Homo sapiens: one gene and its partner. The protein of the gene in region 1 purifies or fractionates together with the protein of each later gene. This does not show direct contact. Each region holds a gene or a part of one and is shown on either strand. Other genes may lie near its edges.

Region 1 (2,529 bases):
TTATGTCTATAATCCTAGCACTCTGGGAGGGTGAGGCTGGAGGATTACTTGGGTCCAGGAGTTCGAGACCAGCCTGGGCAATATAGCAAGATGCCTGACCCTACCAGAAAAAAATACTAGCCAGATGCAGTGGTGTACACCCATAATCCCAGCTACTCAGGAGGCTGAGACAAGAGGATCATTTGAGTCCAGGATGTTGAGTCTGCAGTGAGCTATGATTGCACTACTGCACTCCAGCCTGGGAGACAGCAAGATCCTGTCTTAACAAAATAAATAAATAAAAATAAATAAAATATAGGTCTTGGTCTCACCCTTAGTTTCTAGATCAGCAGATAGCCTAGGAATCTGGGTTTAACAGGCTTCCCAGTGTTTCCTGGTGGGTCCTGAGTGGTATGAGGGTGCCACTGGGCTGGCTGCAGGACAGTTGCATACTCTTGTCATTTCTCCACTTCCCCCAGTGTGGCTGAGCAGCAGGGACGGTGGCGAGGCTGGTACACCTACACAGACCTGTGTGTGCTGCTGGAGCAGCCGACCTGGCAGTTGGCCCTGGGCTCCCTCTGCCAGCGGCTGGTAAAGGTGAGGAGGGGCTCGGAAGGATAGGGAGCTTGAGCAGGCCGGTGTGTAGGGTGGGATGGTGTGAAGTGATTGCTGAAAAGCCCAGGAGATGGGGTTGGGAATAGATGGGCAGAGTGGGGTGTAAATGGCTATAGAGACCTCCAACTGGAACACAGATTTCTAGAGACAAGGGGTGAATGTGTTAAAGACAGATTCCTTCTTTCTTATCTCCTCTCCTGCAGCTGTCTTGCCTGTTAGCTGTGGCATATGTGAGCAGTGTGGCCCTGGCTGTGGCATCGGTGGCCGTAATACATCAGTCTTTGGGGCTGTCCTGCATCCCTACACCTGGGCCGCCTGACCTTGGACTGACCTCCCGTTGCCTCCTGGAGCCCTGCATACCTTCTGTGCCACAATGCCTGCCGTCTCTCGCTAATGTCTCCAGCTGCCTGGAAGGCAGCATGGGGCTGCGGTCACTCTGGGGCAGTCTTCTGGCCTCACTGACTCCTCCACCATTGCCTCCCCCAGACCCCCCTGCCCCTCCCACTCTTCTTCATAACTGCCACCTTTGCCAGAAGCTCCAGAGAGACTCCCCAACCTGCCATGCCTGCCTCCACCCCAACCGTACAGTCCCCACTGCGCTGTCCAGCCCCTGGTACCATACCTATGGCCTGGCTCCCCCCTGGCCTTGGAGCCCGGTGCTCCTTTCACTTCCTCAGCCTCAGCAATGTTCCCTTTTCAGTGTCATGGAGCTGGCTCGCCTCAAGTCTTTCGTTTTCCCAGGCTAGGTAGGGCTGTGAGGAATGCATTAAGAGGGTTTGGGAGTTTCTGAGAACCTGGAGGAGCAAAGCTTGATTCAGATCCTGTCTGCCTCGCTGGGTCCTTGGCAGGTCCCCTGTCCTCCTGGGTGGGAGCTTATGGGGTGGTGGGGCAGAAGGACTGAAGGTAATTCACTCCTAGATCGCAGTGGCTGGCTGCTTGGCCAGGACAGTGATGCCGCCAGGGAGAGCTTCCGCTTGGTGACCAGGGACATGTCCCAGATGGACATAGAAGCCCCTCTCTGCCTCCCTGGGATTTTTTAGACTTTTACTTTTGATTTCCCTAGGATGGAAGAGTATAGGTGGGAGATAAGGGAAGTGGGGTGAGAGGAGAAAGGAAATGTTGGCATGGGCCTGTGTGATGTCCCTGAGGCAGAAGAGCCGGGGACTGATGGGTTCAGGTGGGAGCTGCTGGGTGAGGCAGGGAACCCTTTTCACTCCCATTCCTTAGCTTTAGTCTAATGGAGCCAAGGACTGCTGGGACCTTCAACCCTGATCTTTTGTCTTCCAGTCTTCTCTTAGTGTCCTGCTCCTAGGTTTCCCTCTCTTCTGGTTCTTCTCCCAGGTATTCTCTTCCCAGGCCTCTCTGGCCACTGCTTTGTATCAGGGTTTTTCACGCTTTTGTAGAACTGAGGTTTCAATAAACAGTTTCAGTTGCATGGCCTGGACTTTTCCTTCTGCGGCAGCCCTTGAAGATTTTTCCTCCCTGTATCTGCCTTCCAAGCCTCCCTGCTTCCTGATCCTGTCATCTCACAAACTGTTTTCTCAGCCTCATCTCAGGACTTTCCTATCGTTTGATAGGCATAGGCTTCCATTTCCAACTTTGTTCCTGCTCCCAGGACCCTGGGCCCTAGCACTGCTCAACTTGGGATGCCATGGGACACACATGGTGACTGTCCTGTCCCTGAGTTGGCCTTGTCTGTCACTTGTTCTGGGTAAGCACTCTCCTTGTGGATCCCAAAGCACATCTCGTGGAGAGGGGCCAGGCCTTGTAACCAGCAGAGCCTTGTGAGCTCCTGAGGGCAAGCCACGAGGACGCTTCTCTCTCCTGACCTCCTCACTGGTCTGACACATGGTGATGGTCACATGGTGCTTAACAATTCCAAGAACTTGAAGAACTCCAAGGCTGGGTCATCACTGGAGGAAGGAAAACAGTCTG
Region 2 (3,500 bases), on another chromosome or scaffold:
ATGCCTGTAATCCCAACACTTTGGGAGGCCAAGATGGGCAGATCACCTGAGTTCAGGAGTTGGAGACCAGCCTGGCCAACATGGCGAAACCCTGTCTCTATTAAAAATACAAAAATTAGTCGGGCATGGTGGCGGGCATCCGTAATCCCAGCTACTCCGGAGGCTGAGGCACAAGAATCACTTGAACCTGGGAGGTGGAGGTTGCAGTGAGCCAAGATCACACTACTGCATTCCAGCCGGGATGACAGAGTGAGACTGTCTAGATAGGTAGATAGATAGATAGATAAATAGATAGATAGATAGATAGATAGATAGATAGATAGATAGATAGATGCATACAAACATACATACATACATACATACATAATGGATAGATAATGTCTGTTGAATTAATGGGTTCCATTATTCTGGTTGATTGTGACAGGCTTTCTCTCCTGAAGCTTAAGGACCACTGGGTTGGGCATGAGGGCCTGAAAAATGATGTAACAAAATCAGATGTGAAAAAATCCATTTAAACTCAATCTACCCCAGGCCCAGCCTTACCCTACCACAGGCTTACTTACCTCTCAAAGGTCCTCCTAATCAATGACTCTGTCCAGCTCTCTGGCAGTACATGGTAGGACAGCGGTGCTCTCCTTGGGTCTCAGTGCAGCAAGTAAGCAGGTGGTGAGCACAGGATGGGCTGGAAAGGACCTGTGAGTAGGGTGGTGGAGGACCCTGTACAAGGACAGAAACCCAGACACCAAATGATTAATATATCCAAGGGCTGGGATTCCCAGCCTAGTAGCCCAAGGAAAGATAGCTTAAAGATATTCTCTAAGATTTTTCTTCTCTCCCTGCTCTTAACTAAAGCTTGCAAAGGAGGTGATTGTACATCTCCATCCAAGAACAAAACTAGCACTTTGCTGGCATATATGGGAATGCACTTTATTTTCTTCAGAAACAGGGACTGAAGAGGTAAAAACAAACTCTGAATCAGGTGTTGTTATTGAATCTGAAAGAGAAGGATAGAGTTCAGATTATTCTATATAATAGGTGCTAGTATTTGAAAAGGACCTTCCCACAGCCTCTGAGAAAAGGGAAGTAGATCATTGGTAGAAAGATGACATGGTTGCTTACAGATATCAAATGCTAACAATTATGTAAGGCCTTATGTGACCTGGTAACTCATGATAAGGAATTACCTTTGATTCCAGGGCTATTTAGAAAGCAAGAGTTCATATAAGCAAGAACTTTAACTTGGAGAAATAAAAATTAACATCAAGGAGATTACTACTTAATTACCTAAATGTAAAATGAGTATGTATTTCCTTGTTAAATTTTTGCTTACTCCTGGTGGAACTTAAACATTTTTATGACCTCCGGGTGATTTGTGTGGGGAAGAAGGAGGAGCACATGCATGTCTCTCTCTCTATATATAGTATTATAATGTGCATCATCTTGCTGTACAAAATACTGTCATTCCAAACTGCCAATGATTGAGATGCAAAATTACAGTTACAAATGGCATTTTAGGAACTATTTTTAGGTTGTCTTCAAGGACTATGTTATTAATAGCACCAGTTTGCATTTCAGTTGCTTTTCTGAATGAAGAAAAGAGATAAATCTTCAAGCTTGACTTGCTCATCAACCAACCATTTCATGATCAGAGTACATTTCCTTTCACTACCTTCCTTTTGGACCTTACCTTCTTGGTAAATATTTCTGGGGTGTTTTGTTTAATCCAGTCAGTTACTCATTCACTGAGGCAGTCTAGTAGCAGAACAAGCTACTAGACTGAATGTTTTCCTATTGGAAAGCTGCAGGTTTAGCCTGAGCACCTGACACCTTAGTAATGAAGATTGATTCAGCTCACCACCTACCCAATCTCTCTGCCTTCTAGCAATGGACTTGTTTATTCAGAAAATTCTTCCTTTTTCCTTAAAAAAAAAAAAAAAGGCAGGGGCAGACTTAATATGCTACCTTAATTTTTTAAAATTTTCTTTGAACAGACTTTAAAGGGGATGGGGGAGTAGTGTTGTAATCACTTGATTTTTCAACACCCAAGTGTGTGCTCTTTCTCTGTGGGTTTATTTCAGTCTACAACTTAAAACTAGACTGATGAAGAACCGACTGATGGAGCTGCTCTACACCCTTCAGGCAACTTTCTGTGACCACTGTTTCTCATACTCAAACTTTTAATAAAGCTTGAGGTTTTGCTCTTCAAGAAAAGATCATCCATGTTACTCATTAAATGCAGATCCACATGATTGAACAAGCACTGAGCAGAAGGCCAAGCAGCCAGCCTCTTCCAAGAAATAAGGCACTTTGCTAGAACTTAATCTGAATGGCTCATACAAGGAGGTGGGAACCTCAGAAGCCCAGAATGATTCTTTTCATTTTGCATGTGACCCTCCATACACTGACTTGGTGAGCCTCTTCTCATTTGTAGAAATAAGATTACTGGTATCTATATCACAGAGTTGTTATGAAAATTATGTGAAGTGATGTATGTAAAACTATACCAACAGTTCTATGCAAATGAAAATTTTAAATGTTTGTTATTAGTAAAGAGAGAGGTGGGTGCATGCTCTGATGTGCCACCCAGATCCCTGCTTTAGGACTGACGGACTCACTCTTCAGCTGCTGGGAGCTCTCAGCTGAGACCTCTCCCAGGACTTCTCCTTGGTTGAAGAGAGACACTTTGCCCAAGGTTAAGCACCACCACCCCAGCCTGAGTCCATTGGACTGGTCAATGGGCAGGTGTGAAGGCACAGCCTACCTCCCTTAATTTAGGAGGTAACTCTGAAGGGCATCCCAGGTCCAGAGTCCCCTTAGGATTAGAGGATCTGCTGAGGGAGACTTCTGTTGTGACTGCATTACAGTTCAATGTCTCCCTCTATCCAGTCTGCTTCCCTTGCAGCCTCACAGGTCCCATTCCCAAGAGCACTCCTGCATGCACATCTCGGAGTCTCAGAGAACCCAACCTTGACAAATAGAATTATAGGAGCTTACATGTTCTGATTGATAGATGAGCAGACTTTACAATAAAAATTATAAAAGGTAGATAGATATTTTATGCTTGCATTAGAAAATATGTAGGCCAACCAGGCAGTGGCTCATGCCTGTAATCCCAACACTTTGGGAGGCCAAGGTGGGCGGATCACTTGAGGTTGGGAGTTCAAGACCAGCCTGGCCAAATTGGTGAAACCCCATCTCTACTAAAAATACAAACATTAGCCGGGCATGGTGACAGCCGCCTGTAATCCCAGCTACTCGGGAGGCTGAGGCAGGAGAGCCGCTTGAACCCAGGAGGCAGAGATTGCAGTGAGTTGAGATCACGCCATTGCACTCCAGCCTGGATGACAGAGTGAGACTCCATCTCAAAAAAAAAAAAAAGAAAAAAGAAAATATGTAGGCCCAAACATATCTACAAAAGACTCAAGAAAATAAAAGACATTAAATATCAACTAGATAGTTGACAGGTAGATTCACATCCAGAATTTCCTTTCAAATTTCTT

Evidence for each region. Proteins that work in one complex are often made in the same cells at the same time.
Region 2: the proteins of CNPPD1 (region 1) and SLC27A2 purify together in Homo sapiens (affinity purification with mass spectrometry; 2 studies listed by BioGRID and IntAct, with this or other methods). This does not show direct contact.

Annotation. Positions count from the first base shown.
Region 1 is NC_000002.12:219,171,397-219,173,925, reverse strand, and holds the end of CNPPD1 (protein CNPPD1), read left to right. Parts: intron 1-458; coding exon 459-576; intron 577-797; coding exon 798-1,340; 3' UTR 1,341-2,029; downstream 2,030-2,529.
Region 2 is NC_000015.10:50,188,696-50,192,195, forward strand, and holds part of SLC27A2 (long-chain fatty acid transport protein 2), read left to right. Parts: intron 1-3,500. UniProt on the Homo sapiens protein: Mediates the import of long-chain fatty acids (LCFA) into the cell by facilitating their transport across cell membranes, playing an important role in hepatic fatty acid uptake.